2 linked regions of the Homo sapiens genome follow. The protein of the gene in region 2 interacts with the protein of the main gene of each other region in a biochemical or structural test. Each region holds a gene or a part of one and is shown on either strand. Other genes may lie near its edges.

Region 1 (3,754 bases), about 130 Mb from region 2:
GTAACTGCTGACTTGCTGGGAGAATAACACACAACTTCAATTTTTATTGTCTAAAACAGACTATATGCAGTAAGAAAATGTATAAAAACACTTTCGTTTCTAGAGCTTATATGTAAACATTTTTATTCAGTCACCCAGGAGTCTCAGAATGCCACTCATACAAGGATCCAGAACCTTGTGTTATTTCTACAATAAAACAAAATACTATTCTTTAGAAAACTCCTACAAGTTATTTAATTTTGTTTCATTCATACAACAAGTATTTAGTTAGTGCCTACCATGTGCCAGGGTGCTCCATATTACAGTAACATTACTAGAATACCATCCTCAACTTTCCTTCAAGCTCTCTGGATAACTAGTCGAAATGGCAGATAGAAGTAATCTATATATATATATATTTTTTTAAAAAACCTCTACTTATAGATGCACTATTGTGGCTGCAAAGATGTGAAAATCTATACATAATGTGTTTATGGTACTATATTTTACAGCCCTTAGAAATCTGTAATTATTTTCTTTGGACTCATATATAGACCAACAGATACAGTTTAATTGTGCAGTTATGTTGTATAAGCTGAAAATATATAGCCAAACATATCTAAGCATTTTAATTAAGTCACTGTACTTACTCTGCGTTTTTTCTGAAGTTGATACTTTGATTCACTATATGGTGGAACACAGTGGTTTTTTTCAAAATCAGGTGTAATGACGGCTTTCTGCAGAAGCTATAAAAACATAAAATTGGTTTTAAAATAATGTCAGAATGTTATATAAGTTTTTCAACAGTTTAAACTTCTGTAAGTTTTAAAATTTTTAGTCAGCCTGGCAAAGTGGCTCACACCTATAATCCTAGTGCTTTGAGGAGGCCAAGGGAGGAGGATCACTTGAGGCCAGGAGTTTTAGACCACCTTGGTCAACATAGCAAGACCCTGACTGTAAAAAAAAAAAAAAAAAGAAAAGAAATTAGTTGGGCATGGTGGCACACACCTGTAGTCCCAGCTACTCAGGACGCTAAGGCAGAAGGATCACTTGAGGCCAGGAGCTTGAGGCTGCAGCAAGCTATGACTGTGCCACTCACTCCAGCCTGGGTGACAGAGTGAGACCCTGTCTCCCCCCAAACCCAGCTCCCTCCCAAAAAAAAAAAGAAAAAAGAAAAAAAAGGCCAGGCACGATGGCTCATGCCTATAATCCCAACTCTTTAGGAGGCCAAGGCAGGACAATCACTTGAGGCCAGGAGTTCAAGACTAGCCTGGGTAACATAAGAAAACGCCATTTCTCCAAAATAAATAAATAAATTTGTGCAGTCAAATCTGTTTATCTTTTCCTAAATGATTTCTGTACTTTTGTTACTTGACTAGGATGATTATATTCTCCTAAAACTCTGTGTGACTAAAGGAACCTCAGGTTAATTAGTATTTTTCTCAGTACAAGAACCAAGTAAGACTGCTCTGTAGCCCTCAAAATAGTTTACAGGAATATAGTACAAGCATTAATTTGGGACTGACATTTGAAATGATCAACTCAGAAATTAACAGTCAGGCACACAATTCAGGTTCAGGCCTAGATGTTTCTGTGTGGTATAGGTAGCCGTCTAGGCTTTCCTATCACTCATAAAAGGGGGCATGATATTTACTTAACAAATGATTAAGAGTTTGCTGTGAGTCAAGTACTGTAGTACATTCAAGGACAGTGGTTCTCAACTGGGAGCATCTGGCAATGTCTGGAGACATTTTTGGTGGTGGTGAGGATAAGGAAGAATGCTACTGACATCTAGTGGGCAAAAGATAGGGATGCTGTTAAACATCCTACTATGCACGGAACATCTCACAACAAAATTATGCAGCCCAAAACATCAGTAGTGCTGAGACTGAAAAACCCTGTTTTAGGAATATAAAGAAAAGATGGTAAGTTAATATATCACATGATCAACAATGAATCAGATCTATGCTAGATGTTATGGAAACAGAGGGGTTGTGAGAAGGACTGGAGGTAAAATATTCCCCAAGGGCAACGATCAATTATTTTGCACTTGCTTGGGGAAAAGCAGGGTAAGTTCAGGCAACTACAGTAGTCTTCAGTGGCAAGAATAGAGCAGATGACAGCTGGGTGGGGTAGAGAGGTACTTTGAAGGATTCAAGAGAATACTGTCACATCTGTGTGTGTGGTGTGTTTTTTGGGGCAGGGAGGAGAGATGTGGTCTAGCTATGTTGCCCAGGTTGGTCTCAAACTCCTGGGCTTAAACAATTCTCCTGCCTCAGCCTCCCAAAGTGCTGGGATTATAGATGTGAGCTACCTTGCCCAGCCGGATTTGTGTTTTTAGACAGAGAAATCTAGAAGTGTGGAGGATGGCTTGAAGAACAAGATGAAAACAAGATCAATAAGGAAGCCACTGGAGTAGTCCAGATGAGAAGCAAAGGCCTGCACTAGCTGGTGACAGTCGCTTGAAAAGGAGGAAGCAGAGAAATATCTTCCCCTAGAGGCTTGGTGACTGACTACAAAAGGAAAAGAGAGTTTGGTTTCATTAGCCAGAAAAAAGAATACAAGAAGAGGATTCCTGGTTCAGGCAGGGAAAGGGGAATTAGTGACGTCAAGTACCTGAGGACATCTAAATGAACAAATAGGTACTTGGATTTAAAGGTCTGAAAGTGACAGTGAGAAGCATCAAGGCTAGAAAATATAGATTTAGGAGAAAACAGTGCAAGGTGTTGGCTAAAGCTAAGGGTTTGGGTAAAGTTACCTTAACAGTAATTCCTTCTGAAATTATATGTAAAATGTCTATATGCACATGTGCATTTTTTTCCGGGTGGAAGAGGCAGGCAGGCATTCACAGCTTTCAGATTCTCAACAGTCTACACTAGTTAAGAACTTAAGAACTAAAAGTATAGCAAGAAAAGGGAAAAAAACAAAACCCCTGGGATCATAATTGGTGGGTGTAAGATGAGGAACACTGACCCTGTATTGATTTATTTTTAAAGCATTATCATTCATAGATAGGATTTTATTGTAAAAAGAAATGACTGTTTTAGAGAGAAGGAAAAAACTAACACATTAGGCCAATGTGGTTTCACTGTAGGAAAATTAAGTCTTTTACCAAGGACTAATTTCTAAAAGTGATTGGTTAGTTCTGTGAAAACCTAACAGCACAATTAACTTACCTCATTTTTCTTTTTCTCCTTGATCTGTGTTAGGGTTCTCTTGTTAGACTGTAGTTTATCTGCATTAAAATTAATATACAAACCACCCAACTGCTTGATACTCAGACCAGGGTCTATGCTGCTGCTTGTCAACTTCAGACTGAAAAAGAAATCATCACTTAAAGATCAAGTAATTAAATCAAAATGGAAACATATAAGATGGCATTTTAAAAAATCACTTATTCTTCTCTTCCCTTGTATTGTCCACAATAAAGAAAAAAAAGCATCTTATTTTTATGAGGAATTCCTGAAAAAAAACTCTAAATAAATATATTTTTCATCATTTTATTTTATTTTTTGAGACAGGGTCTCACTGTTGGCCCAGGATGGAGTGCAGTAGTGACCACTGCAGCCTTGAACTCTTGGGACTCAAGTGATCCTCCTACCTCAACCTCCCTGGGTGGCTGGGACTACAGGTGCACACCCAACACCTGGCTCCATAATGTCAAATGAATGAGCCATTCCATGAAGAACCCAAGGCAGTGATTTTCTCATTCCCCAGGCTAACATTTCATATTTTTATGGTAAATTAACCACTTGAAATACATGTATCAAAAACT
Region 2 (3,018 bases):
AATGGCACTCCCCAAATAAATGCCGTGAATTTGGAGGGGGTAGGAAAGGAATTCTGCGTTGCTAACGCCTCGCAGAAAATAATGTGGCTAAAGAGGGAGGCAGCTACATTTGCTCAGAAAAAGGGAATTCTTTTCCTCCTAAATTAACCCCTTCCCCCACCCCCACTCCCATAAGGGTTAAAGTTACCGGCAGCTGGGGTCGCTTATTACATCCGGCTCCCCCGCGCAGGACGCTGCTTTGACGCCGTGCTTCGATTCGGTATCAAACATCCTGCCATCGCGGTATCCTGCCAGGAAAATATCCTCCCGGAATGTTCATTGCTTAAATCTAAACATGTCTGTCTGGTCCAGGCAGGGATGGAAAAGTCTTAAGCAAATGCAGAGCCAGGCACCACCGCCAGGGGAAAGTGACAACACCCATGGCCTCAGAGCCCGTGGTCTTGCGCCACGTCTGGCCTCGCCCATGGGGGGCGGGTAGGGTTGGGGAGGTTGGCACAGGGTCTTTTGGGGGGAGGTGACCCGCACTCCTCACCTGCACGGCGCACGCCAACCTCATTTGGACCCGGTCCTGAACCGGGCGCAAGCGCTCAACATCCAGGAATGCACCACTTGCTTATAAAAGACATTTGGGGCCAGGTGCGGTGGTTCACGCCTGTAATCCCAGCACTTTGGGAGGCAGAGGCGGATGGATCACCAGGTCAGAAGATCGAGACTATCCTGGCCAACATGGTGAAACCCCGTCTCTACTAAAAATACAAAAAATTAGCCAGGCGTGGTGGGGCGTGCCTGTAATCCCAGCTACTCGTAAGGCTGAGGCAGGAGAATCGCTTGAACCCAGGAGGCGGAGGTTGCAGTGAGCCCAGATTGCGCCACTGCACGCCAGCCTAGAGACAGAGCGAGACTTCTTCTAGAAAAAAAAAAAAAAAAAAAGAAAGAAAGAAAAAAAAAAGAAATCTCGTCGTGAGTTAATAGCTCTGCGCGGAGGGAGGGGATGGAGAGGGGGTCCTTGATCGCCTCCCAACATTACTGAGCTACATCACCTGAGCAGTTTCTACCCCGATTTCTGTAACGAGCAGTTTTTCTCGTTCTGTGCCGGCGCGCGCGCGCACACACACACACACACACACACACACACGGCTCAGATTCGGCCGCACCCGGCAACCGCTAGGGTGCATGGAGACACATTAGGTTACATAACCCTTCACCGTGTTCGAAACCCTTTCTTGATCGTGTGGGTGGCTCTGAAAAGAGCCTTTGGGTTCAGGACGCCGAGGAACGCCTCACTTGGAGCTGGTGTACTTGGTGACAGCCTTGGTGCCCTCGGACACGGCGTGCTTGGCCAGCTCGCCGGGCAGCAGCAGGCGAACGGCCGTCTGCACTTCGCGGGACGTGATGGTGGAGCGCTTGTTGTAGTGTGCCAGGCGGGAGGCCTCGCTGGCGATGCGCTCGAAGATGTCATTGACGAAGGAGTTCATGATGCCCATGGCCTTGGACGAGATGCCGGTGTCGGGGTGCACCTGCTTCAGCACCTTGTACACGTAGATAGAATAGCTCTCCTTGCGGCCGCGCTTGCGCTTCTTGCCGTCCTTCTTCTGTGCCTTGGTGACAGCCTTTTTAGAACCCTTCTTGGGCGCAGGAGCCGATTTGGACGGGTCTGGCATGATGGCTGAGTCTCTCCAAACAGAAACGCGCGGCGCTCGGAGTAACTCTATTTGTACGTTTTGTATTCAAATGAAGGCTCAGGATTTGCTCACTTCTGATTGGATCAAACGTTGTTCTACGTCATCGCTGGGAAAGGAATACGCAAATTAGGAGTGCCAGGTTCTTTTTCTGATTGGCTACCATAGCCATCCAATCGAACGCCGCGGTCTAGCCTACCTCTGTACCATACATAAGGGCTCGCTGGCCTTCACTGCCCTCTTGTTTTTAGTCTCGCTTTTCGGTTGCCGTTGTCTTTTTTCCTTGACTCGGAAATGTCCGGTCGTGGTAAGCAGGGTGGCAAGGCGCGCGCCAAGGCTAAGTCGCGCTCGTCGCGCGCGGGGCTGCAGTTCCCCGTGGGCCGCGTGCACCGGTTGCTCCGCAAGGGCAACTATTCGGAGCGCGTGGGCGCCGGCGCCCCGGTCTATCTGGCCGCGGTGCTCGAGTACTTGACTGCCGAGATCCTGGAGCTTGCCGGCAACGCGGCGCGCGACAACAAGAAGACGCGCATCATCCCGCGCCACCTGCAGCTGGCCATCCGCAACGACGAGGAGCTCAACAAGCTGCTGGGCCGCGTGACCATCGCGCAGGGTGGCGTCCTGCCCAACATCCAGGCCGTACTGCTGCCCAAGAAGACGGAGAGCCACCACAAGGCCAAGGGCAAGTGAGGCCGCCCGCCGCCCCCGGGGCCCCTTTGATGGACATAAAGGCTCTTTTCAGAGCCACCTACTATCTCGAGAAAAGAGCCGCACTGATCCTGCAGTTCTTTATAGGCCGGAGGCCTGATCACCCTAGGCTCATGAATGAGCGCAGTGGCCATGGGGAAGGGCGCAACGGGAACCGAGACCCTGGGGACTGATTGGGCTGCATACTTGCGAGGTGGGCAACGTGTTCTGTTAACAACAGGGAACCCTCGTCCACAGGTGGCCACCCCTTGCTCTTGAGTCCCACCCAAAACCTCTAGTAGGGTTTTAATAACGCTCACCGTAAAGGTGTCTTCATAATTACTAGTGACAAGTTCTCTTGACTCTAGCAAGGTTCCCGTGTGGTCATCAAGTACAGAATGCAATTTCTTAATGATTTATCTGATATTAAAAGTATTTATGATCTCTAAGTAGTTTGCACTTTAATTCTGAAGAGTAAGTCTATGGATTTCTATTTAAATTGCTAAGTTTTAACAATGTGAGCTCCACCAGTGTTAAGATTTAATTTATTTGGCTGGGAATTCTAAAGGTCATGAGGAAAGTTTCAGTACTTAAAAGGAACCAGATTAGTAGATGCTGAAAGGTATAAACCTTTTAAGAAGACTTAATTTGGAAT

Evidence for each region. The genes of interacting proteins can lie anywhere in the genome.
Region 1: the proteins of H2AC25 (region 2) and DNTTIP2 form a complex in vitro, tested with the Homo sapiens proteins (one study listed by BioGRID).

What each region holds. Positions count from the first base shown.
Region 1 is NC_000001.11:93,872,490-93,876,243, forward strand, and holds part of DNTTIP2 (deoxynucleotidyltransferase terminal-interacting protein 2), read right to left. Parts: intron 3,295-3,754; coding exon 3,156-3,294; intron 726-3,155; coding exon 630-725; intron 1-629. UniProt on the Homo sapiens protein: Regulates the transcriptional activity of DNTT and ESR1. May function as a chromatin remodeling protein. Part of the small subunit (SSU) processome, first precursor of the small eukaryotic ribosomal subunit.
Region 2 is NC_000001.11:228,456,773-228,459,790, reverse strand, and holds H2AC25 (histone H2A type 3), read left to right. Parts: upstream 1-1,917; 5' UTR 1,918-1,973; coding exon 1,974-2,366; 3' UTR 2,367-2,427; downstream 2,428-3,018. Other genes in the region: H2BC26 (histone H2B type 3-B), read right to left, coding at 1,281-1,661. UniProt on the Homo sapiens protein: Core component of nucleosome. Nucleosomes wrap and compact DNA into chromatin, limiting DNA accessibility to the cellular machineries which require DNA as a template.